Linked DNA regions of Homo sapiens: all the other regions are linked to region 2. Evidence: fine-mapped expression QTL. A gene starts in region 2. Each other region holds a variant in brackets. All regions are shown on one strand. Distances are between the middles of the regions.

Region 1 (4,782 bases), 73 kb before region 2:
CTGATGGGTTGTGCCTGAATTACAAAGGGATGAGGGTATAATGAGGCATGTCCGATCATCCATTCCCATGATGTCCTGAACCAATGTTTCAGGTTTACTTTGGAATTCAATTACTCGAGAAGAGTTCTTTCCATTGTTTGGGAGGCTTTAAATTTTATTTTTGGTTTATATTATGTTCTCCTAAGTAATCTATTAAAACTACCTTTTAGTAAATATAAAATGATAAATTAAAAACTCTTTAATTCTGACATTGGATGTTAATACTTAAAGAGTCCTTAGCATATGTAGCAATACTTTTATTCTGATTGCGTCTTACTTTATCTTACAGGTTAGATATGGCTTAGGAATGCTCAATCTTTCTACTTAAAAGAAAAAAAATGAGCCTTTGTAAATGTATATGATTTAAGATGGTCATGTTCAAATTAAAATAACTTGTTTTCTGAAAGTCAAATGAAATGTCTGAGGTAAAATATGAGATAGCAGGAAAAAGGAAACTTTATAACCCCAGGTAACTTGCAATTATTTGGGTCTCTGAGGCAAATCTTTTAATTATATGTGTATTCCTTGTTGTTGTTACCCACTTCCCCAACTATTCATGTATTGTAATTTAACTTTGTTTTTATTAAGCATCCAGATACACTTTTCTTGTGATATCTGTAGAAGGATTTGGTTTTGTGATCATCTCTCTCGATTCATATACCAAAATGGATCATGGTACAGAAAAAATGGAAAGATGGAAGAGCAATCAGATGCAGACCTTTTAGCATGTCTGGTGTTTGTTTTCTCACTTTTGGGCCCAGGACACCACTGCCACTTTTTGTAAGGCTGGGAATTACATTTTTCAGAATCCACTTACCTGTGTGGTTCTGGGTCAGAGTTTGCCAATGAGAAAAATTTGCTGGAGAGTCAGAAGAAGGAAATGAAGAGGAAGCCATCAGTCTTTTCAGAGGTGTTTGCAGCTTGATGCTTGGAAAGATGAAATTCACAGTGGCTTTCTAGCAAAATTTTGAGAATAATCCACTTTGCCTGAGACAGTTGGTGGTAGTTTTTAAAGATTCTCAAGTATTATAGCAGCTCCGGGAAAGCCTCTGAAAAGAACCTGCTTGGAGCTTTGGGCTAACGTCTTCATTATTACCTACTCTGATCAGCGGTGGCTTTCCTAACCTGTAGCTCCCAACCCTCATTCCCCATTCTTCAAATACTTACTTCTGTGAGCCCCTCGTTCTGCATTAAGCATCATTTATTAGGATGATATCAAGTGGCTTCCATTAGGCTGACTGACTCCTAATGATGCAGACATAGTCACAGTTAGGGCTGAGAAAATATTCAGTTTATTAAATATTGTGAATGGGTGGAATATCAGATACATCATCTCAATATGTAAATATCCTATCCCATCTCAACATCAAATTTAGATTACCTGGATTTCTTCTTTGCTTTTCTCTATGATTACAACAGAGATCATTATGTATTTTATTAGTTTCTTCAGTCTTTAAGATATTTTTTGAATGATGTTCAAATAAACTCCAAGTTATCTCCAACTTTTTCTGAACAAAATATTTCCATTCTTAAGATACAGGCTTGTAATTCATATACTTGATGCTACTCAATGGCGTCTTATCTGTAGTAGGAAGAAGGAAATTGTGTTTCAATGAATAGTATAAAATCATTTAACCCTTACTCATTATTTGTTGCCTCCTTCCCTCTGACATGATACGTAAAGCTCTTTTGGTTCTGTTTGCCACTAGACTCAATACTGTTTTCATAAAATTGAAATCAAATCAAGATCATACTTAAGGTCCAAGCTGTCATAACCAAATGGAGCTTGCATACTAGGTGATTCCATCGTGGCAAAATGTTACACTTTAGAAACATCCATGCCCAATAAAACTAATTAATGTTTTGATATCCCTCAGGAAAAAACCACTGATACTCATAACACATTGCAGTGTTTCTCTGAAGTGTCTTTCCCCATCCTTTTCTTTCTCCACCTCTTTCTATTCCTCTATTGGATGTAATTAGTTACAAACTCTTACATAGTGCTTGTTATGTCCCAGGCACCACTCTAGGTACTTCACATATATTAACATATTTAATCCTTACAATAAGCCTAACATTAGGTGCTACTATTAATGCCATATTGCAGATGAGAAAACTGAGACTGAGGGGGTTAAACTTGCCTGAAATCACAGAGCAAATAAGTGGCAGGGTCAGAGTGAGTGCACTCAGCCACAAGCAGGAGGTTATGATGCTTCTCAAAGCCTTTTATCAACCCACCCTCTTTAGCACCTTTTTCTTCCTTTACTTATTTTCCCTTTCTCTGTGTTTCTTGTCTCTAGCCAGTAATTCTTTTTCATTGAAATTCTAGCAATGCAATCAGTAAGCTCCATTTCTTTTTTTTACCCACTATCTCAGGTTGCCTGAGGAAGAGCCAGGAGGTAGTTAGCCAGTCTGAACCCTCCTTTGGGGAAGGTAGGGAAGAGGGGAGCAAGGGATGGAGTTGGAGAAGGTTCTATGGATACCCATGGATGGTGATTGCTTTTTTCCCCACTAAAGAGAAATTTATGTTTTAACCTATGTGTGGGAGACAAAGAAATATCGAAAGCAAGTAAAGAAAAAAA[A/AAAAT]GACACCAGTGATCAACAGAATAAAGCCAGAATGAGATTGAAGTTAGAAGCTTGGGAGAGCAGGTTACAGTAGAACAGGACATATTGTCCTCATGCTTAGCCTTTTATGCCCTTTTCCTTCCCCATGGCCTTCTGGCATTTTTTCCCCTTAGTGTGATTTTAAATGCATTCTTAGAAGCAGCATTAATGGGGATAAAGATGATTTGCTATTGATCATATGAGGAAGGATTCAGATGGCAAATAAATACATAAAATAGAATATAGAGCAGCCACCTAGTTTAGTACTGTCAAAGTGGAGTTAAAAAGCTTTAGAGGTCATAGGGTTTTCTGTGCCATAAAAATCTCACATCAAATCAAATCAAATAATATATACTTAGGCTGCCTTCAAACCCAAGGAAGCTCAAGCTTTTATTTTTATTTTTCTCAAACAATATTTAATCAAATAAGTACTCAATAACTTTTGCTTTCCAGTTTTCAAACCATAGCCCTATTATGATCTGGTTATTTTCACAATGGGGGCCAATCCTACAGGATGACACCAGTGCTCGGAGAAAACTATACATATATCCATTTTGTCTCCAAGCCAAATTGATCCATATCAAGCTTCAAGAAGAAAATTTCTAATCAGTTGTCAAATTCTGGTACTCCAGCATACTTTTATATTCATGACCCTGGGGCATTTTGAAGTGCTAAATAGCATATAATGACTTTTTAAATTACAACTCCTACATATTAACTTTAAGACATTTTTGAGAGGTTTGCTGCATTTGTCTGTATGTTTGTATGAGAGAGAGAGAGATTATTAGAACTACCCTTGTGTGTATAGGAATTAGGACTGAAATAACATCTCGGCTGTTGATATTTGGAAATTTAAGATTAGAGACAAAACACAATGCAGTTTAATCCTATATGAAGAAATAAGATCACAGAAACTTTTTAAATATATGTTTTATAGCACTGGCCCTACAAATAAGTGTCTTGAATCTATATTGTGGAACATTTGCTGTCTCAACTACAGTGTCATGAAATACTGCGTTACATTGGACAGTTGTATCTATACATTGAAATTCCTTAAATACACATCAAAATTTTATATAATAACTCTACCAAAACACAAAAATGATACAATTTTTAATTTTAGAGGCAAATAAATGCTTTTTTTATTTTGGAAATAATAAAAAAACATTAATTAGTAACAATTACTAAGTAGAAGAGATATGCAAATGTCAATGTCTAATATTTATTTTCTCTTTAAACTCTGAAATACCTGTATTTTCTTCTCACATTTGACTCCAGAGTATTCAGTGCGGCAGGAACACACATTGGGAAATATGCATCTGCCTCCATAAAGACATTTTGGGTTGCAAATTGCTGCAATACACAAATTTTTACAATGACCATCCTTTGACATGAAATGCTTGTGGCATATTCTATCCTAGTGGTCTGGGGCTATCTGGTGATTGGACACCAATGCAGTCATAAGAATCTATTAATGAACCATCAATGAATGGATCTAATCTATGTACTCTTGTCTTTCAGAGCACACGCACACATCAAAAACAAAGCACCCAAAATTCAAACAACACTTTTGGAATTCTATAAAGATATTATTAAAAGAAACAAAAATTTCATTGGCTACATTTTGAAGTATTTGAAATATATCTCTTTTTTTTTCTAGAGGAGCTGAAGTCATTAACAGAAGATAGCATCTATAATTTACTTTTTAACATTAAGCAAAAATTTAAAAGAGACAACCCAGTACTGGCTAGTGTATGGAAAATTTGACAATTTTTATACTATCATTGGAAGTTTAATGTGAAATAACTACTGAAAATTTCTGAAAGATACTCATGCTGTCTATATCATACATTTCTTACTTGAAATCTTTCCCAAGGCAATTAAAAATACCTACATCTATCTCAATATCTCAATATCTCAATCTATTTATCATCTACCTGTAGAAAGAAAATACTTATAATACTTAATAATAACTTGTAAATAACTAAAATGTTAAACATAAGAGGGGAAGTAAAGGGAATTTTTGTAGTATTTATATTATGGAACTTAATATATTGCTTTAAATTTTGTTTTTAAACAACATAAATTCTTTCAAACAATATTGAGTGAAAATGAGCGTACCACAAAATTATATATAATAGTT
Region 2 (4,769 bases):
ATTGACTGTGGTCATCGCTGCATATACCTGTAAATATACTCTGAATATACACATATCTGTGAAAATGAAAAACCATAGAGTCGCACACTTTGAGTGATTTGTATGGTATATGAACATCTTAATAAAGCTATTTGAAAAAAAGAAGTCTCAATAAATGCATTTTCCATTTACCTCGTCTTCTAGTTTTACTCCATTAAACATAAAGAACTTGACAATGTTACCAATGTTATGAACTTAAAACCTGGTAATGGGTAATATTTGTCTTCAGCAGAGAGATTACAAAGCTATTATATAGAGGCAAAAAAGGGTTATGCGGTCTATAGTAAACATGAAATCATCTTCCTTTATAAACATTGGTCATTTTTTTCCTGGAAATATTTATCTAACTGTAATGAACAGATATATGTTATTACATGTATTTTTTAAAGTTATTCATAAAGATTTAGTAACGCTGTAAGCAAACCAAAGAAGGACCAGAAAAAATATCATTGCAGAAAATAATAAATTTGATTTTAGTATTTTATTTTTAAGTTTTGTATAGGATAGTGTTTGTATTCCCCTTATACAAAGCAAACTTACATCAGTAAAATGAGTTAAGATCAAAAAATGATAAGACAAAACTATACCCTGGACTGCTATAAATGTTGTACATAATGTTTTTTCAAGCTGCAGATGGTTGAACACAGATCAGACTTTTTCTGAAAAACGTAAGGAAACTTGCAATATAAGAACAAGTCACCTTTCATTAATATTCCTATCTGTATGAACACAAAAAACAAGCAAAAAGGGCTAATGAAAGTAGTTTTGGTTTAACTTCACTGTATTTTAAACTAAATGTTCTTTGTCATGGATTAAAGAAGTAGGAGGGGAGTATTCGCTCCACAGAGATCTCTTTTACAGTGCCAAAACTGATTCTAACATATATATACAAAAACCATAATACAGTATAATACGGATATACAAAACTTAACTTGGTGATTTATTGTAGGGATAAAATGTTCACCAATGAATTATTTCTGAGGGTCCGGTTGGAGGTGGAATTCGTGCAGTATGGAATTCAACTCTGTTCTGAGAATTCAGGTCCACTTGCGGCTAGCATACCTTGCAGATCCGGCGAAAGTTTCTTACAGTAAATTACAATGACCTCAAAGAGCAGGATAACAGCAGGAAACAACCAAAAACAGAACCAAGGGTCGTAGAGTAAGAGGAGGCAACAACCGCATGTGCGCAAAAGAAAAGTGTAGAGTTTTCAAGCTGGAAATTGACCTTTTCAAAGACAGCAGAGGGACAGAGAGGAGGCGGGTGAGGAACAAACATCGCTTGCTGCCTTAAAACGCACAGGGACGCTCCCCAAGTCGTCCAAAAAGTCTAGCCTAGTCCCTCTACCGCCCACGCGGCGCCACTGCGCGCCCACCCCCGCGCGCCCTACCTCGCTTACCTTCCCCCCAGGCCAGGAACATCAGCGCGATCACCAGCACGCAGGCTCCGCCAGGCATCGCTGCTTCCGCAGGTGGGGCGAAAGGCGTCGCAGAGCCCGGGCCGCGGGTGCCAGGAGGATGGGGCCACAGCAGCCCCTCGGGCCTCCTTTCTTGGATTTTCTCAGTCTGTTGCTGCTTGGAACAGGGAAGCTCCGCGTCCTCGTTCTGGGGTGCACCCAGTCCTTTCGTGGGATAGAGCCTTCGCGTAATCCGTCTGCGACTCCTCCCTTCCCATTTTGGCTGCTGGCTGACCTGAAAGCCACGCCCAACCTGTCCCCATAGCCCAGCGTGTACCGGCAGTGGCTCCGCCGCCTTGGATGTCACCGTGCAGTCGCACAGCCAGGAGTCAAGCTACAGGGATGTAGCTCTCCGCCCGCTGCGTCTTGCTGTTCTAACAGAGGCTGTATGAAAACTTGGTAATCCTAGAAACTGCTCAGATGGACCTCGCATAAAAGAAGCCTCACAAGGTTCCGTTGGAAGGGGAAGTTTCCCATGATTGTATCTGCAGACGGATTCCTAACTGCGTAATGGGCGCTACTGGTTTGCACCCCAAGGCGAAGGCGCTGAAAATGCTCCTGTCACCTTAGATCTCAGTGATGAACGACAGGAGGAGGAGTAGACACTAACGTTGCAACAGTAGATGCCTTTTCTTCTGCCTCTGTGACAGGTTTTCAGAAGTGGAAAGGACCGCATTTAGACACTAGCCAAACCATGAGGTTTGTCACCTGTATTTGCCAGTGATTCCCAGAGCTCTTACAGTTGTCCCAGGACGCTTTAGCACATGGCCACACGACTCCCAAGGTTGACCTGGGAGTTATTAGAAGATCAGAGGGCTCTAATGTCTTCCCCCAACCTCGTTTTTGTTTTGTTTTGTTTTGTTCGAGACAAGGTCTCACTCTGTCACCCAGGCTGGAGTGCAGTGGCACAGTCACAGCTCGCTGGAGCCTTGAACTCCTGGCGTCAAGCGATCTTCCCCCTCAGTCTCCCAAAATGCTGGGATTACAGGCGTGAGCCACCGTGCCAGGTCTAAGGTCTTCAGAAGTGTGGTTGCCTCTGCAGAGGAACAGGGTCCTTTTTTCAACTGATTCTACATCTTTTTATGTCTGAAAATGAAACCTCACTGTCCTAGTTTTTCCCTGGCTGTCTCATTCCTTGAGTCTCCCATCCATCACCTTGCACTTGGTTCTCACAGAGCCTTTACCTGAAGAGGATAGTTTGGGGGTCCAAGTGGGCACCAAGGTTCCACCCACAAATTTGGAGGTTCAAGGTTGGCCTAGGCATGGTGGTGGAAACAGGAGGTGTCCAAATGCATAAACAAGTATTTTTTTAATTTCATATAATTCTTTATTTTTAATTTGAAAGGTAAATTACCATTTAAAATTTTAAAGCTTATCATCTCCATAGTAAAAATATTAACCCATATTGGAAATAATTTCTTTTTGGTACACAATACTTGTGTGTAGCCATCTTTCAAATGCAGCAAGGGCACCCAATTTTCTGGATTAAAAATAAAATATTACTTTTTGGTGGACGGTAGACAGGTGATTTTTATCTTAAGGCTTAAGTATGGAAGGGCAATATAATGTAGGCACAATGAAAACCCAGAGATTTCTTAGTGTACAGTTAAGTCTTTTGTTTCCGCTTAAAAAATTCTAATAAAACAGACAAGAAATTAAATGTCAGTTTTCTCAATCTATTTGTGAAATCACCAGGAACAAAGTAATTTGATGTGAATCAAATCATAGCAGGACTTTTGTGAATTTATTTTCTAGCAGTATCTATACAAATGTAGTAAACTTTTATACTTTCTTGGAGGACAACATTACTTATCTGACTTCCATCAAAATACAATTTCAGGTATCGTGGGCCTTATTTTTTTCTTCAGTTTTTGATTGTTTATGAGTTTATGAGTTTACAATAAACTTGTGCCAAAACCCAACTTCCCTCCATGTGACTAAAGATGGAAAAAACTAAAAGCAACTTAAGAATTTTTTTTCAAGTCTCAGTAACCTGGCTTGGATCTGCAAGAATGTATCAATTAAATGCTGGTTATATCACGCCTGTAATCCCAGTGCTTTGGGAGGTCGAGGCAGGCGGATCACCTGAGGTCAGGAGTTCAAGACCAGCCTGGCCAACATGGTGAAACCCCATCTCTACTAAAAATACAAAACATTAGATGGGCGTGGTGGCGTTCGCCTGTAGTCCCATCTACTCGGGAGGCTGAGGCAGGAGAATCGTTTGAGCCCAGGAGGCAGAGGTTGCAGTGAGCCAAGATAGCTCCTCTGTACTCCAGCCTGGGCGACAGAGCAAGATTCCATCTCAAAAAAAAAAAAAAAAAAAAAAAAAATTAGTTATAGAACTGTATGGAAAACAAAAAGTAATGAAAATGTTTTAATCTATGTCTCGTGAAGTTAATCAAAAATTGGTATAAGATTCTTTTTTATATTTTTGAACATTAAAAACAATGGATGCATGGTACCCCGCAATATAGAGACTGACAGCACTTGTAAAATGCAGTAAATATCACTGAGACAAATAATAAGAATGTCAGAGGGAAGAAGAAATGAAGCCAAGTGCTAATAAGTACAATATAGCTTAAATTAAAAGATTAACAGGAGAAAATTTTCAAATGATAATTTTCTAGGAAAAGGAGATAACTCAGTTTTTGTCAGGTTAATTTACAAAGTGATGGGCTTGAGTGAAAAAAAATACCAAATTCAAGGGGCAGAAAAACCCAGTGATTAAGTCCACAAATCCTAGGTTAAAAACACCTGGGCTGTAATTCTAGATCTGCTACCTATTTATCAGAAGTGTAACCTTGAACAGCACACTCAACTCCTCTTAACCTCATTTTTCTGTACAATAGAAATGACAATAATAGTACCCCATAGACTTAAAGAATCAAAAGTGTATGTGCATGCCTGTGTGTGGCTGGGAGCGTGGAAGAGCATCTGGAGAAAGAGCACTCAGAATAGCATTTGGTCCAAAGTAGCTATTATGGTCGAATGTAACAGTTTACTGTTATTAGAACTAGGGTAATATTCTACATAATTATACTTTCTCTTATGTCTTATTATATAAAGGTGCATCATTTCTTGGCACTACTCTATTACAGTGTCTGCACAGTTTGGAGTAACCTTCCTGGAAAATACATATTTATGTAACATATGAATTCCTCATCCCATGTTTTACTAAATGAGTGAGCCCTTTTCCAGAAATGTAAAATTGATAGGATTGCTTCTGGGGTTTACTTGAGCTGAACACAAGTACACTCAGAAGCAGAGGCTAAAA
Region 3 (4,000 bases), 40 kb before region 2:
GAGAAAGCCAGTATATAGTGAAACAGGAAAATGAAGCCCACAAACAAAAGCCAAATTGAGACAAACATACACACACACACACACACACACACATAAAAATGCACACATACTGAGTCTTCATGGTGTTCAAGTCCCAAGTTCAAGATTTTTCTTGAGAATTCAGCTACTTTCTTATTCTTGATTCTCTAAGAAATATACTATCCTCATAATAAATATTTTTGCTCAAGTTAGTTTATTAGTAATTTGAAACTAAATAAACTCTACTTAGTTCACTCTACTTAATAACTCAGTGACACATTATGCTTAAGCTACACTTTTAGTATTGTTTTTCAGTATGAAAATGCACTGGTCCCAAAAGAAGAGAAGCCAGCATAATGTTCCAGGTACGGATAACTACGTAGGAAACCAAAAGCTATATTTTGCTGTCAAAATTTAGATTTAGATTTTTCTTTGAAACTTATTACTGTCAAATGTTTTCAACCACTCAGAATTTGTCATAGAGCATGCTGATGCTTCAATATTGTGGGTCAGCAGGAAAGGGAAAGGAAAACATGATCACCCTAATCTGCAGCTAACAGAAATTACGTTTTTGAAGATTTGATGATTGAAAGAGTGAGCTGCAAATCTCCATATTTAAGGGAGTATGGAGAGTCTAGCCTAGCAGATCTACCAGTGGTTTCCCTCTTGTAGAAGAAGAATGATGATTTCTCAGAGTAGTCATGATATCTACACTTAGGTGAATGTACAGTCTCGGTTTCTTGTGCAGAAAGAAAGCTCCAGCTAATGACTGGCAATATAGAGATTATTCCCAACTTTCTATTTCAAGGGGCCTACCCAAAATGAGGAATATACAGTGTTCTATTTCCTTTTCATTCATCAATATTTTGTGAGTATATATTATGTGCTGAAAATATCTCAGTGAAAAAAGATCACAAAGAAAATGACAGACAATATATAATTGTATTATTGCATTAAAAGAGACTCAAATAAGATATAATACAAAAGGAGTTATTAAGTCTAACTAACTAGCACAGTCAAAGAAGCCTTCAAAAAAGCAAACACTTCTCTTCCTGAAAATAAAAAGGGAGACTGCTATTTGGACACTGGGAGCAGAAGTGGAAAGAGTGCAATTCACATGAATGGAGGGAATAGTGTATGAAAAAGACAGGGATGCATGGAACAGCATAAACAGGAAGTTCAAGCCTACAAATATAGACAAGAGCTAAATCATAATGTGCCATCCATTTCTTGGTTAACATCCTGTATTTAATCCTATAAATCAGCAACCTTAAAATTGGATTTTGTAGAGTCTTGACTGCTTTGGGGGAGGAAGTGAAAGAAATGCTTAAGTGGTTGAATCTCTAGCTAAAGACTTGCTTAAAACTACTAATACAAAAGTAGAAAAAAGCATGTAAAATATGTTACACTTTATATTAAAAAAAGAGTTTCTATCCATTTTTTGTACCAAAGAAATATAGTAAGGATTAACCAGAAAATGATGACAGTAGAAACATACTTTAATGAAAAGAAGGAGTGATGGAAAGCAGATGACAGGGATGACAAGAAAGTAACAATTCTATGTGCATACCTTTGTATAGCTTCAACTCTTAGAACTATAATATTTCATATACCCTCCAAATAATTAAATAATTATAATCAACCAGAGTGTGGAAGAAACTCAAAATGGAAGACAAATATTTTTAAAACCTAGTTGTATTATAAATAAAACAGATAACCACTCTAAACAGAGTGGAAAATAGTTAATCTAACTCACTTTGGAAAGCAGTATCTGCCTTTATATTGTGACCTTGTTTCATGAATTTGTTTTTTTACAGAGGAAAGGCTTAGAATTTCTGAAACTGACTTACATATACATTTAGATTGAGAAACCAGGTAAATATATTGTGGATCATGAGAGCCAGTTTTCACTTGTAAAGAAAAGAGTTACAAATAAGGAAAGGAGAAGGCTAGAATGAACCTTATGGCACTGCACTGAAATCAGAAGTATCAGTATCAACTCACAGAGATGACAGATAGATAAACCGATAGATAGGTAGTTACGTGTGTGTATAAGTGTACATACATAGATTTTCTAACTGTATCCATTAAAAGGGCCAAGAAGGATTAACTACCCTGTAACAAGAAGCACACCTTGCACCCAAGTCTTGGATTTTAAATGACCCTCTTTGATAAATGGAACTACAGTCTTTAGAGAAACAGTTGATTCTAGAGTTGGGGTAGGAAAAATATGAGTCTGGAATATCATATGATGCCAGAATGTGATAAATTGTTCAAAAAATTATGGGAGCAAGTTAAAAGGACGTGTGAACGAATTTGTAATAGTTCCCAATGGTCAAAGCTAGAATAATTTAAACAGCCAAATAAAGAATGATAGCATTGAGTTATAATTCATGAAATAAGTTTCCATTAGTCTA[C/T]ACTGGCATGAGTAAATAAATGAATAAATAAATTGGAAACAAGGAACAGCTCTTCCTTTCAGTAGAATTCCAGATAATATGTGTAGAAGAAATGATGGAAATAGAAAATCACCACTGGTAAATACCATAGTCATAATTGCTACAAGCAAAAATTATAGTTGGATGCTAAAATTAGGAAGAAAATGTTTGAGGAGCTATCATATATTTGCATAATCTAAAAGTGTCTCCCTACAACGTATTTATTAGTTAAAAAGGGAAAAACAGGGAGCTTAAAGTGAAGATACATGGCAAAAACCCCTTAAGTAAGTGATCAAAATTTACATTGCCCGTGATTAGATACATTGCATCATGAAAGGATGCACTAAAAATTGTACAACATGGCATGACCTCAATCTAACCATAAAAAAGGAACATTCCACAAAATAACTGGCCAGTGCTCTTCGAAAGAACCAAGTGTGCAAAAGATGAAGAAAGATGGAGCACCGTCACAATATTCAAAAGAGCCAAGTGTGCAAAAGATAAAGAAAGATGGAGCACTGTCACAATACGAAAGAGACTGAAGAAACATGACAAAATGCAGTATAAAATCTTAAATTAGATCCTGAATCAGGAAAAGGACCATTATTAGTTGGACAACTGGTAAATTTACAGAACAAGGTCTGTAAATTTGTTAATAGTATTGTATCGAGGTGAATTTTCTGATTTGAATAATTATTTTATGAATATGGTTTATAAATAAGATATTAACTTTATGAGAAACTGGGTGAAGAATTACTGGAAACTGCATTATTTTTACAATTTTTCTGTGAGTATCAAGTTATTCCAAAATAAAAGTTTTTAAAAATTACTTCGTAAAATGGGAAGTCATTAAGGATTTTGCATGACCTGATTTCCAAAATGCTAGATTTTAAAGAGGAACCCAATCTTCGAAGGGAACTGAAATTTGAACTAAGAAGGTGAGCAGGAATCGATTCACGTTGACTGAACATGTAATAGGGGAGCTAGGAGAAGACATTAGCTTAGTGGCAGGGCGAGCACATTCCACACAAAGTGAATGCAAGGCTTTGAGCAGGGCCCATGTTCGTAGGGTTGGGGATCCTAAAATAGTGGCACATTAAACAGACTTGACTGGAGGTATGAATTAAAGGCTAGAAGAGCCTTTAAAACCCAGCACTGGGCAAGACTGGCGCTAGGAGAGACAGACTTAACTTCAGCACAATGTAAAATAAAGACGGATATGCACTCTAATTTTAGTTTGGGCAAGTGAACATCTTTCTTTCTATAGTTTTTGATTTGGTTTGGCTCTGTGTCTCCGCCCAAATCTCATCTCGAATTGTAATCCCCAGGGATCGAGGGAGGGACATAGTGGGAGTTGACTGGATCATGAGGGCAGTTTCTCCCATGCTGCTCTCATGATAGTAAGGAAATTCTCATGAGATCTCGATGGTTTAAAAGTGGCAGCGTCCCTCTTAACTCCCTCTCACCTGCCACCTTGTGAAGAAGGTGCCTCCGTCTGCCTTCTGCCATGATTTTATGTTTCCTGGGGTCTTCCCAGCCATGTGGAA
Region 4 (4,000 bases), 59 kb before region 2:
AACTACCTTTTCACATATTATTTTAAAATAAACAACTTATTTCTTTAAAGTATCATCCACTTTAGGAATGCTATTTCATAAATTTTCCGCTTAAGATTTAAACCAAAGCAATGCAATTATATGGCTACAGATGTATTTTTACAAATTCACTTTTTAGGTTTCTTCTTACTACTTTACATTTTCTAGTTATTTGGCATTTAACACTTTATTTGAACCATATTTGGTAGATCATTCAATAGCTGTCTTTGCTTGAAGCTAAAACATTTGTAGATATATAGTACCTTATAACTAAACCTCAAATCATTTCAGAGGGTAATTTTACCAATAACAAATAAGCTATTGCCCCTTGAATCTCTGATTTCAGAAATTTAATTCTTTAGAATCTTTGAATAAATTATATTTAATAAGTATTTTAAAATGTAGAGTCCTATACCAGCTTTGATAAGAATATTTTAATATATACACAGTAAAACTGAATTGTCTTGTAAAATGGTTTTTAAAGAAAATTATGCTATATTTTAGGCCTTATATTTGATTTTTAATTTGAATTATCACCTTCATCACAGGTTGCTCCACCATGTCCTGGAAGACACTGACAAATGTTAGGCTTAATACATTTTCCATGGTTTTTGCAATCAGGGTCACAAAGAGCTGTATAAAATAAAGCCCAAGTTTTAGACATATCAATTACCAAATACAATTTATCATGCAAACTAATGAATGATGTTACCTACCAGTTTGGCAGTTAGAACCAATGTAACCAGGTTTACATTTGCAGATGTTTGGGGCAACACACTCCCTACTTTTTCCACATGGATATTTACAAATGGCTAAAAAAAAATCAAAGAAAAAAAGGTTGATTGCTAAAACAGAACATACATATTGCTCAGAGACTTAGTTATGATAGAAGCAAAAGTCTCTGAAGTTTGAATAGTTAACTAATAGTCCCTCTAGATAATACTGAGAACGTAAGAATACTCCAACAACTCTCTTGCTTAAGTTTAGTCTCAAACAAGCCAAAACACAAACAAAGCAAAACAGTAACACAACAGTAACACAAGACAGCTTCTATGTTGCCAAAGCCAAAAAGTTGATTTTCATCAGAGAAAACAATGTTAATAATTGTGAGAAGATAGAAACAATGCCTTTAAAATTAAAGTGATATATAACTTGCTGTAATCTCGAAAGAGTTGGAAAGATTACAGAGAAACCTAGTTCATGCAAATAAGCAAATATGCCAGAATTAGTATTTGAAGTGCCAAATGCCCACCGTGAGCTGAAAAGAATACAGACCACAATGTTAATCAGATCTATATTGACATCTTTTATCTGTTTAGCTGATTAATGCTGGGAAATTCAGTGGGCACTCCAAAACTCTGTTTTCTCATCTGTATAATGGGAAAAATAATACCCAATTTGTGGGGTTCATGTGGATAATATGACACAGTTGATACAAAATGTTTCCACAGACCCTGGAACACAGAAAGTACTCAAATATATTTGTAATATATATTATATAGTTGTAATACTCTATAATATTAACATGATTTTAATAAATAACTCAGCAGACCCACTTTTGTTCTTTCAAAATGTGATGAGAATACAGTATAAATGATCAATAAATAAAATAAACGGAAATAAGTGAACTAAGCAGAATAAATAGAAATTAGTATATGGAAAAGCATATCTTTTTAATAACTTAAACTTGAATTAGATAATTTTCTTTGTATCTTCTGAAGAGTTTCATACTACCTCTGCAATTGATACCATCTCCATAATACCCAAAGGGGC[A/C]GCGTCCACATTGGAAGTGACCATCTGAGCTTGGCACACAGGAAACACCAAGAAAACAAGGCTAGCCAGCACAAGGTGATATTTTGGTTGATCCAAACTTTTCTGGCAAAATAGCAATTGCTTTTGTAATAGATGACACAAACTCATCTTCATACTGTGTGTAACCTTGGGAAGACCTGCTAATTTGAGAATATACCCTCCTGTCTCTGTTTGGATGGTGTTCTGGATATCATCATTTGCTTTGCCATGGGTGTTGTTTGGGTTCCTGCTTAAAGAGCTACTGTTCTTCACAGAAACTTCCAACTCACCCAGACTGAGATTTGTACTGAGACTACGATCCACATGTTCAATATCTGATATCTGATGGGAAATAGGCTTTACTGAATTATCCATTTGGGCTGTAATTAATTTCAGTGATGAGCGGGAGATGTTGTTAGTTGTGCTCAGTAACTTTTTGATAGTAGCGGGAGTAGGAGTAAATCTTGTACTAATTAGTGAATATTCTGTTGATGGTGGCTGAAAATTTATAGCTACACAACCAAAAAATAAAAAACGTTAGTCAATAGCATTTATAAATAGTCTTCTCTACCTGAAATATTTTACATTAAGTAATTCATTCCTTCATTTAGTATCTACACATGTCTAACATTGTAGTAGGAGCTGTGTACTAACAAGAAATCATGACACTGTTTCTGCCTTCAAGGAGCTTATAATCTTTTGGGGTACACAAGATAACCCAGAATGTTAAATAGTATAAAAGTCAAAGTACAATAATTTATTTCATTAAGATTTTGAAATGGCTAACAAACACCTGTTGATCACCTCATACACATGAGCCTCAAAACAAAGGAAAGCACAGCCCCTATGCCTGAGCAATTTAGAATATTGTCAAGGATAGAGACATGTGAGCCATTCACTATGAAACAATCATTGAGAACTACTACAAGAGTGATAAATATAAAATGAAACCTACAGAAACACAGAAGAGTAAGTAATTTTCCCTATAAAGAAGACAGGAACTAAATGTATAAGCAAAAATTGGGAAATTATATAAATGCTATTTTATATGAGAGGCAAAGAACCACAGGTCTAATAATTTTACAAATGTGATAAAATCAGATTTTATGTCCCCATCTTTCTTGACTGCTCAGCTAGAAATTAAAACATTTTTACACATCTTTTTGGCGGGGGCGGGGGGGATCATTATTTATTTCACCTGCCAAAATACTTCATTTCCTTATTGCACTTTTTTACTTCTTTGGTATGGAAAAATCTAACGGGTTTTAGAGTATGAACACATTTTAAGCAGTGATTAGATACGTTTTTCTTGTTATGCTTTCTATTGCAAATTTAGGATTTGATTTTGCACTGTCTTCATGCAAAGCTCTTCTCAAAGGTCTTAAAATATAAAAAACACTTAATGCTTCTCAAAGCATTAAGATTTTATGTAAATCAAACCAAAACCAGAAAAAGACAGAAGAAAATGAACCAAAAACAACAAAAATAATCCTTAACATAGTTGGCAACAAGTGCAATGAAAGATTTTTGAAAAATGTGAGGACTTCGTGAAACATAAAAAGCATATGGGTTCAGACTAATAGAAACAAGAGTGCACCAAATATAGCCCCAAACATAAATAAGGGCAGTGAGGTAAGCACAGTTGTGTCAAAAAATACAGCAAAAGTGCCCTGGACTAGCAGTCCCCAGAAGAACTGCTTTAGATGATCTGGGCCAAGTCAGTGTCCCATTCCCTCAGCCTCTGTACACAGAAGGGACTCCTTCCAGAACCAAATTGTTTTAAGTGAACCTTCTCCTTAGGAGAGTTTTTATTGTCAGAATTGGAGAAAGAAGCAGAGAAGAACTGAAACTCCAGATTACAAAAATTACCATTAAAGAAAGTAAGAAAAGAGCATATGTTAGCAAATGTATGTTAGTAAAGCACATTTTTTCTTTTGAAATGTAATGATTCAATGTTCCTATGAAGGTATATATCAGAGATATCATAAAAATTACAAAATACAAGAATCATGAGAAGATATTGGCCTTACAGATACTAAAATGTAGTATAAAGCCACACTAATCAAAAACAATGTATTATTGGCATAAAAAAGACTATTAGAAAATAATAACATAACAGAAAGCTCAGAAATATATCTCAACATATAAGGGACTTTAAATAAAATATATGATATTTAATCGTGAAAATGGC
Region 5 (4,000 bases), 51 kb before region 2:
TTCCACTTGTTGGCTTAACATGCCTCTTTCTCCCTTGGGCATTTTTATCATCCTCTTCTTTATTTACACTTTTATCAGATCTTGTGAGAACCACAGTTTGTGTAGTAAATTGATTTACAAACTGTGTTTCAACTGTAAATGAGAACAAGGAAAACAGATTAGACTTAAACTATTAGACAACCAAAGCACCACAAATAAGAATATACAATACAAACGCCACTTGGATTAAACTCTGCAAATTAGACTGAATAACTCACTTAAATGTCATCTCTTCTGCACACTTTTCTGGTATGGACTGAATTGTGTTCCCCTAAAATTCATATGTTAAATCCCTACTCCTACATGTGAACATGTTTGGAGACAGGGTCTTTAAGGGGGTAAATAAGATAAAATGAGATCATAAGAGTGGCACCCTAATCCAATAGGACTGGTGTGCTCACGAAAACAGGAAGAGATACCACACATGCAGGGAAGACCTGGTGAGAACATAGCCAGTCTGCAAACCAGAGATATCTCACCACAAACCAACCCTACTCGCACCTTAATCTTGAACTTTCAGCATTCAGAACTGTGAGAAAATAAATTTCTGTTGTTTATGCCCCTCAATCTGTTATAGCAGCCCAAGCTAACGTACCTTCCTTCAGTTGAATTCACCCACCCGATCAATTTTGCCCATTTGGGTTCTCCCACAGAACTTTGCCCTTCATGCTATTGATTCTTATGTGCCCCACTAGTTAGCAATAACCTCAAGAATAACTGTGCTTTATTCATGTTGCTATCCATTGACTCTGGTACCTATCATAAAACTAAGAAAACACCACCAACAACCAAAAGTCCTTTTGTATTAATAAGCCCCTTCCTACAATACACAAATGACTCTGACAATGTTAAGAAACATATTTAGTCACTCATGTGTAAGGGGATTTGGTTCAACTTGTTTTTCTCTTAAATGCCACTGAATGAAGTTTTTATTGAAGAAATGGGTCTGTTTGGGAAAGAAAACGGCTAGATCACTTATTACAATGGAAGGTGTGAATATTAGGGATGGGATATTCAGGAGTAAATGTGAGAAGCAGAAGTAGAGAATTCCCCTTACCATCCTATACTGTGTTGCTCATATCTGTGGGGCTGGGCAGGCTCAGCCCAATTTGAAGCACAAGATGCTGCTGCTTCCTTAGTACATAATTGTCATCAAAAAGGGTCCCATTCACTTAATTAAACCAAAGGTATGGATCTTCAACACTGTCTTCTATAACTTAGTTTTTTCTCTTTTAATCTTTTAAAATGTTGATGCCCACCAATTTTTTTTGTCCATTTTCCTCTAAATCTAAGGGTTTTCCTGGACAATTCTATGACATAGCTGATTATTCTAAGATTTATATTTTCAACTTAATCCTCCTTTCTGAGCTTACATGGATATTCCATAGTAACCCTAGTTTCTGTGCATCCAAACTGAATTCATTATAATTCCCCTCCAAAAAAACTTGTTCTTCCATTACGTTGCTTGTGTGTCTTAGTCAGCTTGAGCTGCCATAACAGAATACCACAGACTGCGGGGCTTAAACAACAGAAATTATCTTGCCATTCTGGAGGCTCAATGATCCAAGACCAAAGTGATCAAACTAGCTGACTGAGTTTTTGGTGAGGGCTCTCTTCCTGGCTTGAAGACGGCCACTTTCTTGCTCTGTCTATACATCACAAGCTCTCTGGTGTCTCTTCATATAAGGATACTAATTCTGTGGGATCAGGGCTCCACCCTTATAACCTCATTTAACCTTAATTACTTCCTTTCTCCAAATATAGCCACACTGGGAGTTAGGGCTTCAACATATAAATTTTGGGGGGACGCAGTTCTATCCACAGCAATGCAAATGCAAATTCTACACACCCATTCACTAAAATCAAACACTTAAAACTTAATGAATCTCTTTCTCTCATCATGCTAAAACCAATCACTGGCCAAGTACAATCAACTTGCTTCTTTATTATCCCTTTCATCATTACCTCATCTTCATCTTAGGTTAATATATCTTCATCTTTTTTCCTATATATTTGAAGTATTTTCTTAACTCTTCTTCCCACCTTCAGATTTACACAGTTCCCTACCCACAAGTGGTCCATCCTACACACTGCTCCTTAAACTATCTCACATGTAAACTGTATTGTCTTTCTCTCCCACTTCAAAATTTTAAGAGAGTCTCCATGGTTTTTATGTGGTCTTGCTACTGCTTACCTCTCTAGCTCCAACTCTTGTAGCAGCTCCCCTTTCTTCCTATATTCCAGGCACACTGAACTATTCACAGTGGCTGGCTGCCCAAGGAGTGCTGTGATGTTGCCTGCTTCTGTCCCTTTGCTCCTGCTGTTGGTTTTGCCTGGAATGCCTTTCT[C/T]TCTCTTGATCTATCAGATTCAGTTCTCATGTGTCTAGTATAGTCTAGTCGCTTCCTTTTTTAAAACTTTTTCATTATTTCTCCAGGTAGATAAGATTCCCTGTGTAGTATTCCTACTAGCCCTTTTGTGATTTCTATCAAAAGACACAGAACACTTTATTATACTCTGTAATTACTAGTCATATTCCCTGCTGTTACACTCTACCTATTAAGTCAGAAAACATGTCTTATATATTTTTGCATCCTTTGTATCTAGTTCAATGCATGACACTTAATGCATTTACACTAAATAAATACATGAGTCAAAAACAGAAACTATGCTATTAAAAAATAATTAACTGCAGCAAAAAAAATCTCATAGCAGAAAATAGAAACTTTTACCATGGCATATTTTTCCATCCCCATAAAATCCTTCTGGACATGAACCACAATGATAGGAACCAAAGGTATTCAGGCATGCTACTCCCTCAAAGCAAGGCTTGGAGTCACACTCATCAACATCTTCCTGGCAATTTTTGCCTGTATAAAATATAGATCAAGAGCTCAGATTATTTAATTTGAAAAACATCGTATGTCCAATTGTCTTATTATATAACTTCTACTTTTTATGTCTGTCCTTCTAACCCCAAAAGAGCTGCTATGCATTATGAGGACAGAAGTATGCTGTTTTTAAAACTTACTGTATAATCAAATATAAAGTCACTAATTACATTCAATTTAATATTAAACCAGACCTTTCAAGTACATACGATTTTGTTTTTGTAAATAAGATGAGTTAAGAACTCCATTAATAGTTAAGGCAAAAAGCTTCATATTACAGCAGTAATTTGAACTTTGTTTAAAAAGTCAGTAATTTTTAAAAGTTATTTAGGATGGTTGTCTGTTTAGCTTAAGGACAAATTGTTTAGTCTAGTTATAAAAATTCATGAAAGTTGTTTGTGTTAGGAAAGTCAGTCCGTCCTTAATCAAAGTTTTTGAGTTGATGTGGTGCTCTTTGAAATGCTTAACAACTCATCTGAACGAGTAAATTCAGTCATACGTGGATGGTAGCCTTTATTATACTAAAATTTATGAGGCAATCAACATTTGAATTCTTTCAAATAGAGTCTACAGTGAAGTAGAAAAGAGATCTACATTCATAGTTCCCAATGATAAAATTTTTGTTTTAAAATGCTGAAGAGGTCAGACCTGTAATCCCAGTACTTCGGGAGGCTGAGATGGGCGGATCACGAGGTCAGGAGATTGAGACCATGCTGGCCAACATGGTGAAACCCCATCTCTACTAAAAATACAAAAAAATTAGCCGGGCTGGTGGCGGGCGCCTGTAGTCCCAGCCACTCGGGAGGCTGAGGCAAGAGAATGGCGTGAACCCAGGAGGCGGAGCTTGCAGTGAGCTGAGACGGCGCCACTGCACTCCAGCCTGGGCGACAGAGTGAAACTCCGTCTCAAAAAAAAAAAAAAGTGCTGAAGAAAATTAGAAGACACATAAATATTCTGCTCAGTTCTACTGTATTGTTAAAATGGGTATCTTCAAGAAAAATATCAGCTCATTAACTATATATTTACTTATTTAATATTTACATCTATTAAATGTACAGAAAATATTCATATGA
Region 6 (4,802 bases), 140 kb before region 2:
TTGAGTGCCCATGTTATTATATTGGTCTATTTTTGGACTAAATAAATCAGGTGCAGATGTTATTATATTGGTCTATTTTTGGACTACCTACACGTTTTTGTTTTTTTTTTTTTTTTGAGACGGAGTCTCACTCTGTCACCCAGGCTGGAGTACAGTGGCACCATCTTGGCTCACTGCAACCTCCACCTCCCGAGTTCAAGCAATTCTCCTGCCTCAGCCTCCCAAGTAGCTGAGATTACAGGTGCCCACCACCATTCCTGGCTAATTTTTGTATTTTTAGTAGAGACGGGGTTTCACCATGTTGGCCAGGCTAGTCTCGAACTCCTAACTCAGCCTCCCTAAGTGCTGGGATTACAGGCATGAGCCACCGCACCGGGCTTGAACTATGTATCCTTTTCACTGGTTTATTTGACTCTCCTTGCACCAATATTACAGTCTTAATTACTGTCTCTTTATAATAGGTCTTTGTATCTGTTAGTGTTGAGTTTTACAGCTGTGTTCTTCTTCAACATTACTGGACTCTTCTTATTCCCCTGCATACATTTTACTCTTCACACACATTTTAGAATAATCTTGATTTCCACTAAAAAAAATGCAGAATTTTTAAATGATATTGAATCTATAGACCAATTTAGGGAAGATTCACCTGTTAAAATATTTTCTTCCTATCCAGGATATCATCTGTATCTCTGCTTATTAGGTCTTTAACCTCTGTCAGTAATGTTTTCTATGTAATTCTAAACTCTGATCTTTGATTTTTTTTTTTTTTTTTTTTAACCTAGTGAAACTGCACTCTCTGGTAGGCTTCATTGCCTTGAGACTGCACTATCTGAATGGGCTCTATTTTCCTCAGTTGTTATACAGAAAATACCTGAGCAAGAAAGTTAGTGAATGTGGATACTTACCACATCTTCCCTTATCTCAAGAATTATAACTCTGTATGGTGGCCTCTTAGTGCCTGCAAATTATTGCTTTTTAAATTTAAAATATTTTTCCAGCTTGTATTGTATCCCAACATGAGCGAGTTTAAATCTGTTTCCAGCTACTTCAAAACAACCAGAACCAACCCTAAAATTTTAAAAGTAATTTTTACAAGAAAAATTGTATTTTAATATGTATTTTAACCAGTAGAATATTTTATCTACTTTTGCAATTTTTTGTTTTATTCTATAACTTTGTTCCCAAAAGACTGTAAGATATAATGGAATTGAAAATAAGAACAGTTTTTTTTTTTTTAATTCCTTCTTTCTTTTTTTTAATTCTTTTTTTTTTTTTTTTTTGAAAATGGGGTCTCTCTGTTTTGGCCAGGCCGGAGTGTGGTGGTACCATCTTGGCTCACTGCAACCTCCACCTCTTAGGCTCAAGCGATCCTCCCACCTCAGCCTCCTGAGTAGCTGGCACTATAGGCAAATGCCACCATACCTGGCTAATTTTTGCATGTTTTGGTAGAGATGGGGTTTCACCATGTTGCCCAGGTTGGTCTTGAACTCCTGAGCTCACATAATTTATCCATTTCAGCCTCTCAAAGTGCTGGGATTACAGGCATGAGCCACCATGCCCACCTAGAATCCAGTTTTTTAATGACAGTGCAGAATATCTGTTTTCTCTGATGTATAAGGTATTTATAGTAAGCGGCATTTTAAAAACTAGGTTTCCTTATGAAAGATTAATTCTACATGCTGAATACTTGATCCCAAACCAATGAAGTTCTTAATAAGATTGTTCGAGCTAGTCAGGGACCTAGCAGGATAAAAGAAAAAATGATACATTTAAATTAGGTAATTAGAGGAGTGTTTAACACAAGGGCTATTTACAAGTAGGTAGACATGGTGTAGAAAAACTACAAGAGTTAGTGCTATACTTGGACAAATAAATTACAGCACTAATACCACCCTTAGTAAAGAAGTGGCACAAAAATAGAGAGGGCTATTTTAAGAGGAATTCCTGACAAGAACTGAGATATTTAGTCAGGAGATTCATTCTTCCACGAAAAGGATGCCAGAAACGAAAAAACACATTCAGACCTCATTTTTCTCCCTTCGTTTATTCTCCTGCTGGAGCTTACCTTTTGGTCCAAATGAACAGGATGCCAAAGGAAAGGGAGCTTGTTGATGGAATTCATA[C/T]AAGTTCAGTCTTCCAGAACACAGTGTAGGATGGAAATAAATAATGTTTCTGGTTGGGCAAACAGAAACTGTCTAGCACATCAGCGATAGGGTTTGTTTCTCCCCTAATAACCATTTCAAGTTGGACTTATTTTCTCAGAAAATAAATTCATAACACACATGCATAAATGCATGCATGTGTACATCTATCTATCTGTTACACCTCAGTTAAGTAAATTCCTAAAATCAAGTTTAATTTGAGACTATATTAACTACCTATGGAAGTAAACAGTTTTGTAAATTTGAAAATGGAAATTGCTGTTTACCTTATCTTGCACTTTCTAGCAGGTTCAAAGGCAAAGTTGTGAAGTAAGTCCTTTTCCTCCTCACTTTTGAACTCTTTCCACATTTTCTGTTTTATTAGACTATGAGAAGTTTAAGGCCTTAATGAAATGTAACTCCTCTCTATGGTACTCTACCCAACCTCTTAATATCTCAGGGAAAGACTTTCTATCCTACAATGATATCAATTAAACTAGAGTGACTTTCACAATACAAGTAACTGATACAGGATATATTGTATTTAAGAAGATGATTTCATAGGACAATAAATCCTCAAAGCCATAGTGATAATAATTTTATTGCAAAATGAATCACATAGTATCTTTTTGTTTACTCGAAGGGGAAGGTCCTAGTTTATGGTCCTTTTATACCTCTCTAACACTTTCTTATTCCCCTCTTCCCCCTTTAAATAGAGAGAGAGCATTCTGTAAACTCAGAATTATCATGATTGTAGTCCTGATAAACTGACATCTATTAATTAATAAAGGAGAGGCTGGGTGTGGTGGCTCACACCTGTAATCCCAGCACTTTGGGAGGCTGAGGTGGGCGGATCACCTGAGGTCGGCAGTTCAAGACCAGCCTGACCAACCTGGAGAAACCCTGTCTCTACTTAAAAAATACAAAATTAGCCAGGCATGGTGGTGCATGCCTGTAATCCCAGCTACTCAGGGCGGCTGAAGCAGAATTGCTTGAACTCAGGAGGCAGAGATTGCGTTGAGCCGAGATGGCACCATTGCACTCCAGCCTGGGCAACAAGAGCAAAACTCCATCTCAATCAATCAATAAATCAATCAATCAGTAAAGGAGAGAGTAAGATCTCATCTCAAAAAAAAAAAGTAGTTTTGAAATCCTTGCATTAATTTATTTACATTTACTCTCTATTAAGAGCAAATACTACCTGTTTAACACATATTGAAGTGATTTATTATATAACTTTATGTAATTTTTGTACATAAATTTCTAAAAGTAGAAAATATCAAGTCCATAATAGCATAAGCAGGACATATATAGGACAAACCTTATCCAGGTGGTAATTCTTAAGGTTTAAGGAAAATGGGCAATGTCTTTGTTTTTGTTCTCTGTTGTATTTTCTATTCTTTTAACAATGTGTGACACGGAGTAGATCATCAATAAACATATGTTGTGTGATTGAATTTTTAATTGGAATTTAAGACAGACTAGTAAAAAGAAATGTCTTTGGAAAGACACCTTCAAGCTATATCATGTAGGTCAATTCTAGTTTTGCCTACCCAAGAGGCTGAATCTACTGTTATGGAATGTGTTACTTGTCTTTCAAATTTCATCTTTGCTATGGTTTGAACGTTCCTGTTCCCTTTTGGGAAGTAATTAAGTCATGTGGGGTCAGCTCTGATGAATGGATTAGTACCCTTAGAAACGGGCTTGAGGAAACTAGCTAGGCCCTTTTTATCCCTTTGCTTTTTCCACCATGTGTGTGATGGCAGCGGTGGGCTGTATGGAGCTGCCATCATGCTGGCTTCAGCAGGGAGGTATGGGCAGTGGTGGCAGGAGTTGCTGCAGGAGCAGCGGTGGCAGCAGTGGGACCCCTATGTCCCACTTCCCCAAGGCAGCCAACTGTACCACCCCCATCCTTGCACAGCCAGGCAGGACCCGCTCACAGGCCCAGGGCCTCTGCCACAGCCTCAATCTTACTCCCCACTGCGTCCTGGGAGCCTGCGAGCACCTGGGCAAAGGTGCAACAGGGACTCGCAGGGCTGGCCTCAGGAACATAGGGTTCATTTGTGAGGGGTTGGCTGGGGCCACTGCACCACCTGCACCTCACCTGCCACCACTGCAAGGAAAATGCAGACAGGAGGCATGGATGGGGCTGCATGCTCCATGGAGCCAGTGGGAGCCGGGGACAAGCAGGAGCCCTGCCCCTTCCAAGCTGGCAGGGCAGAAGTTCCCCAGGTACAATTGCAACTGTCTAAGCCGGGGCTGCAACCTGGGCACCCCTGTGCTTTTGGAAGCCAGAAGCAGACAGGAGGCCTGCCCTCCCAGGCACAGTTGTGGCAGCCCAAGCCATAGCTGCACACCTAGGCACCTCTGCACTCTTGGTGGCCTGGGAAGACTCCCCATCCCACCACAGGCTCAGAAGTGCCTGCTCCCACTGTCCAGCTTCTCCCTGCTGTCAGCGCCCACTCTGATCAGACAGCAGAGTTGAGGCCAATTCTGGGTGATGTTGCAACCTAGCCAGGTATGTGCACACTTGGGGCAGTGATAACACGCCAGGCCCCTGCCGCCAGGCCCCTTCTGGACTTTGGGCACCAACAAGCCAGGGAGGGAGGCCAAGTGGTAGCTGAGGGCAGCTTGACCCTGGCCTGCAGGTGCCTCTCAGCA
Region 7 (4,802 bases), 38 kb after region 2:
CATCTTTATTAAGTGCTGACAAACACAAAATTTCAAAAGTTCAGAGGACTAGTCTCCATTGCAGGTGACTTGAGGGCTTCAAAGGCATGTATATTCGGTCTAATCTTTAAACCGACATGATTGTATTCTTCAACTTGGGCAGAAAATCTTTTAGCTAGCTCGCATTCCTTCAATGTACATCAGCAATATACTATAAAAACAACCAAAGTTGCATATACCAAGATTTTCAAGGGAAGATTAATCCAGACAACATCATCAGAACACTGCAGATGCTCCAGGACTAGCCAGAAGGACATTTTTCTGGTGATGGCAGGTTCTCCATGGCTCTGTGTGGGCACTGCAGCTCTGCCTCTGACCAACAACTGGTGAACCATAACTGCCTGTCTGGAATATTGTTAGCGTTCTACCTCAAACCAAGCCAAGTACCTGGCATCAGCACCAACCATCAGTGGAGTTGAAATTAAAAAGAAGCTTGTGTTATAAACTAGTGCTCATGAATTTTGGTCCAGTTACTGCCAAAATAGAAAGGGTTATTATTTGTATAGTACATTGTGTGGATGGAAAGAGCTGAATACCGCTAGAACAGATTAAACAGATTAGCCCGTGAGCTGTGACCAGAGGCTACACCTGATCCTACAGAACCCAAGAGATCCAGTCAGCACCATGTCACAACCCATGCTCCATACATGAGCTTTTCAAGATATAATTGTAGGGCAGACTGCAGTAGTGGATTCATGTGCCCATGTCCCTGGGTAAGGCTCTTTCTTCTCTGGATTTTGAAAGTTCCTTCTACAAGATGTAGATGCCTCATCCATCCTGTTTACTAAGATCATAGCAATTTCCCTCCTCTGGGAGGAATCACCTTCCTTCCTTTGTGTTTTGCCAGACACTGAGGAATGAAAGCCTTCAGCAAAAGTATTACCTTGCTTGGGTTTCAATTGTAAGAATTTGGGAGAAATCAGCCAGACCTGAAATGTCTTCACATTTCATGGATTTCCAGTGTTGCCAACTTGTCTCGGTACAATCCAGCAGTTCAGAGTGCGGGAGACTCTATTACGTGTGACCTAGTGACTCAAGATCCTTCCATCATTTGAATCTATCATCTTCAGCAATGGCTGTGTGAATCTCAGAGTGACCTGGGGATAGTTTCCGAACCACCTAGCCATCTTCAGATTTGGGGCTGCATTTGGGGAGGGAGCAATTTTATTTTCTTTCTTTCAGTCACAGTCCCCAGTCCCTTTTGGCCTACACTTGAGACTTTGCTATAAACAACTCCATTCACTTTTTTGCCACGAACAACTCCATTCTGCTTTTTCCTTGGAAAGAAAAGGGCTCTTCTTTTGTTTGTAATACACTTTATATTTTAAATCCATAACTATTTTAAAAAATTAAAAAACAAAAACATTGTTCAGGCCAAAGAAACAGCACTATAAGACAACTGCCAATCAGCAACTTCTGCTGAAGAGGTTCTAGATGAGGGAATGGAGGATCAGAAATCTTCATGACTTCAGTAAGTCTGGCATAGTTTCTGTGACCTCAGTGTCCAAATGATAGTTCAATAATACAGCGATTTCTGATTTGAGATGTCTGATCTGATTGTGCAGAAATTAAGAGCTTAGACTTGATGGCTGGGAGGACCTTTCCAGAGTCTTAGTTGTAGGTCCCAATGTGTCTTTGCTCCCTTATTTCTAACATAAGGGTATAAATATATATGTCTTAGGGTTATGGTGAGGGTGAAATGGGATAGCGAATGAAAACCACTATCCCCATTCCTGCATGTAGTAATCACTTGATAAATTGAGCTATTACTAAATTTTAGATAGGAATGAAAATTTAAATGTGAGCTAGTGGGAAAAGAAAGTACAGGCCTAATCAGCTTCATTGGATAAGCATGACTAGGCACTGCATGCTTTTCTCCATGGGCCTAAAGAAGAAACCTCTCCAGTTTTATAGCATGAATCAGAAATATGTGCTTCGGCATTATTTTGCAATAAATACAAATAAACAAACAAGCCCATGGATTTACATAGATCTTTCAAAAGAGGGGTGGAATAAGACTGTAGCTCTTGTTAACAACATTGTTAACACTGAACATCCAAGTGCACAAGTCATACAGGAG[A/G]GTGTCTTTGTCAGTTGACAAGTGAAACATTACACATCTCGGTTCATCCAGAAAGTTTGATGTTTGCCTCATGTAGTAGAAACTGCAGAGGTGGGCTCCCCATAGATGAAGCCTGACAAGGATTAGTTGGAAGGGACAGTGCCCCTATCATCCCTGCCCACACATCCTTAACTGTCTTATCTCCAGTGCTTGATTGTCCATGAAAATGACCGTGATTCTCAGAAGGTGTTCCTGCTACCTTCGGTCTCAGTGAGAAAGGTGGGAGGGAGAAGACTTTAATGTTGCAACAGCAGCATCCTTCTTTCTCTGCAGCATTCACAGGATTTTAGAAATGAAAGGAGCAACTTGACTCTATCCAACTTGTGTAATCAGTCACCACTTATATGATGATGTTTCCAGAGCTCTCAGCTCAAACCTCTCTCCTAACTTCATACTTGTAGATTGAAATTCTTATTGAAGAGCTGCCCCCTGGTCTCTCAGACCACAATATGTCCAACCCTGGGCATATGTCCAACCCTGCACCATTCACACACCTGCTTGAAAAACTTCCCTTCATAATTTTCTATTGCAGGAATAATTCCCTCATTTCTCTTAAACTGGAAATCTTCAAGTCATCCTTGCCTCTTTTCATTGCAGCTCTCACTGTCTGGCAGTCCCCAAAACCTCTGTGCTCCCTTAACATCATTCAATTCCATTCATTTTCTTCCCTTCTGATACTGCATGATTAGGCCACCATAGCCTCTCATCTAGTTTACAAACAGTCTAAATTATTTTCTTGCTTTTGCCCACATTCCTGTTGAAAAGCTGCTAATTCATCCCCATTGCCCTTTGCATAAGCCCCATGCCCAAAAACTACAAGACTCTTCAGAGTGGTCCCATCTCCATTTTTGTCATTTTTTCCCACAAGAATATACCACTTTTCCCACACTCAACAACTTTCAGTTATCTAATCTGGTCAAGCTCTTCCTCATATTTTTATATAGTGCTTCCCAGGCCAGAAGGCTTTCTGTTCCTTACCTTTTACCTGACTATCACCTACTCAGGCTTAACTCTCGGCTGACATATTAGTTTTTCCAGTGTTTTCTTGACCCACCAACAAGGACTCCCATAGCACCATATACCTAACATTTTCAGCTCTTACCTCTAACGACTGCATGAAAATTCCCCATTTCCCCGTGTCTTTACTCCACTGAATAATGAGAGGTCCTTGAAGATAAAGATTATGTTTAGTCAAGATGTTATTCCCAGGGAATGGCTCAGTAACTGAGTCATTGATGACCCTAAAAAAAAAATTGGTCTGATAAAGTTGAATCTGCTAAAACTCTGAATTGTGTTGATAAGGAATACAAAGGTGTGAATGGATACAGTTATTCAGTAGGTTGTAGTGGAGTTAGAAATAAGGCCCATGATTGGTCCTAGTAGATAGAGTTGCTTCTGCAACCCCCTAAGCTGAGAGACCAAGCTTAAAAACTCAGCCACTTTGTTCTCCAATTTTTTCTCTCAAATGTTTAAAACAAACAAGAGTTGGTAGTGATGAATACATTTATGAAATAGATTTTGGTCATGGTTTCACAAATGTATACATACCTCCAAATTAATCAAGTCATATACATTTTTTTAAAATCCAGCTTTTTGCCTGCTAATCATAAGTCATACATCAACAAAATGGCTTTGAAAAAGGAGAAAAGCTAAGTTGATATACAGTTATTGCCAAATGGCTCTATCAATTAAAAAATAATAATTAAACAAGTTCCCAAGAATTTGTCTATTGTTTTTCAACTCACACTACAATCTATTGCATATTAAACTTGCTTAGCAGGACACAACTCAGTGGTATTATGTCTATACTACAGAATATCAGATGCTAAAAAGGTACTATAGACCATCCACCTTAATCCATTCACTTGACAGTTTAGAGAATTGTGATTCATTCATACTTCTTTCTGTAACTACAATGTATTGCACTGTGAGGTCAAATGTATCAGATGTCCTCATACTGCTGTTTCTTTGTTTATCCTATTTCTTCTTCCTAAGATACCTTTCCCAGGATTTCTTACTGACAAGACCATTTAATGAAACAACAGAAATAAATCCAGTGTTGAAGAAGTTATAAATTCCATGCCAAAAGAAGTGGTCTCCACAGAGTCACATTCATTGCTCTCTATGCCCCCTTATTGTTGGACCCATTAATCTTCATTCATGCTTGCACGGTGATTGCCAAGCTGTATTTTAATAAACTTTAACATGACTCTCTCCAACATAAAAAATGATTTATTTCTTGCAAATATATAAAAGTAATACTGACAGCTTGTGTTCAAAAAGAAATACTGTTGAACAGACAGTCCTAGAGCTACAAAGCAAATATGGAACTTTTATAAGTATTAATCTCAGTTGCACTCTGCTAAGTAAAACTAGATAGACTTAAATGGCTACGTGCTGTTTGATTCTATTTCTGTGTCACTGTTGCGATGGCAATACTATCGGGTCAGAGAATAGATGATTAGTTGCCAGGAGCTGGGAGTAGGAGATATGTTGAGTCCAAATGGGCAAAGAGGGACATTTTGGGGTAATATATGTGTATCTTTTTTGCACAGTTAAGTACACACTGTTTATGTTTATGAACACTCTCAGAACTGTATACCAAGAGGATATATTTATTGTATGAAAATTATTGTATGTTAAA

Which allele goes with the higher level. Positions count from the first base shown, and alleles are read on the strand shown. Sizes are in standard deviations (SD) of each study's normalised expression. Not every link is listed here.
As copies of A replace AAAAT in region 1, the expression in kidney cortex of the gene that starts at base 1,645 in region 2 goes up (moderate effect, 0.61 SD a copy in GTEx).

Evidence for each region.
Region 1: its variant is fine-mapped to the expression of VWDE in kidney cortex (GTEx, PIP above 0.99).
Region 3: its variant is fine-mapped to the expression of VWDE in whole blood (TOPMed, PIP above 0.99).
Region 4: its variant is fine-mapped to the expression of VWDE in whole blood (TOPMed, PIP above 0.99).
Region 5: its variant is fine-mapped to the expression of VWDE in whole blood (TOPMed, PIP above 0.99).
Region 6: its variant is fine-mapped to the expression of VWDE in whole blood (TOPMed, PIP above 0.99).
Region 7: its variant is fine-mapped to the expression of VWDE in whole blood (TOPMed, PIP above 0.99).

The regions. Positions count from the first base shown.
Region 1 is chr7:12,329,577-12,334,358 of GRCh38, forward strand. It overlaps VWDE (von Willebrand factor D and EGF domains), which reads right to left. Exons shown (of 29, transcript NM_001135924.3): 28 at 3,889-3,992; 29 at 1,309-1,621. The coding sequence ends at 1,607. Among named protein-coding and RNA genes, the nearest start is that of VWDE, 72 kb to the right of the region's middle. RefSeq lists an enhancer at 1-313. The variant A/AAAAT (reference allele first, on the strand shown) is at 2,622.
Region 2 is chr7:12,402,221-12,406,989 of GRCh38, forward strand. VWDE (von Willebrand factor D and EGF domains) reads right to left here and starts at 1,645. Exons shown (of 29, transcript NM_001135924.3): 1 at 1,439-1,645. The coding sequence starts at 1,496. It overlaps LOC105375154 (a long non-coding RNA gene), which reads left to right and starts at 3,918. Exons shown (of 3, transcript XR_927035.4): 1 at 3,918-4,769. RefSeq lists enhancers at 933-1,500, 1,501-2,066 and silencers at 1,203-1,497, 1,391-1,440, 2,378-2,567.
Region 3 is chr7:12,362,153-12,366,152 of GRCh38, forward strand. The region is part of intron 13 of VWDE (von Willebrand factor D and EGF domains); the gene reads right to left. Among named protein-coding and RNA genes, the nearest start is that of VWDE, 40 kb to the right of the region's middle. The variant C/T (reference allele first, on the strand shown) is at 2,436.
Region 4 is chr7:12,343,640-12,347,639 of GRCh38, forward strand. It overlaps VWDE (von Willebrand factor D and EGF domains), which reads right to left. Exons shown (of 29, transcript NM_001135924.3): 20 at 735-830; 21 at 556-651. Among named protein-coding and RNA genes, the nearest start is that of VWDE, 58 kb to the right of the region's middle. The variant A/C (reference allele first, on the strand shown) is at 1,792.
Region 5 is chr7:12,351,582-12,355,581 of GRCh38, forward strand. It overlaps VWDE (von Willebrand factor D and EGF domains), which reads right to left. Exons shown (of 29, transcript NM_001135924.3): 19 at 1-132. Among named protein-coding and RNA genes, the nearest start is that of VWDE, 50 kb to the right of the region's middle. The variant C/T (reference allele first, on the strand shown) is at 2,388.
Region 6 is chr7:12,264,989-12,269,790 of GRCh38, forward strand. No RefSeq gene overlaps it. Among named protein-coding and RNA genes, the nearest start is that of TMEM106B, 56 kb to the left of the region's middle. The variant C/T (reference allele first, on the strand shown) is at 2,124.
Region 7 is chr7:12,440,411-12,445,212 of GRCh38, forward strand. LOC105375155 (a long non-coding RNA gene) reads right to left here and starts at 3,389. Exons shown (of 3, transcript XR_927036.2): 1 at 3,261-3,389. The variant A/G (reference allele first, on the strand shown) is at 2,120.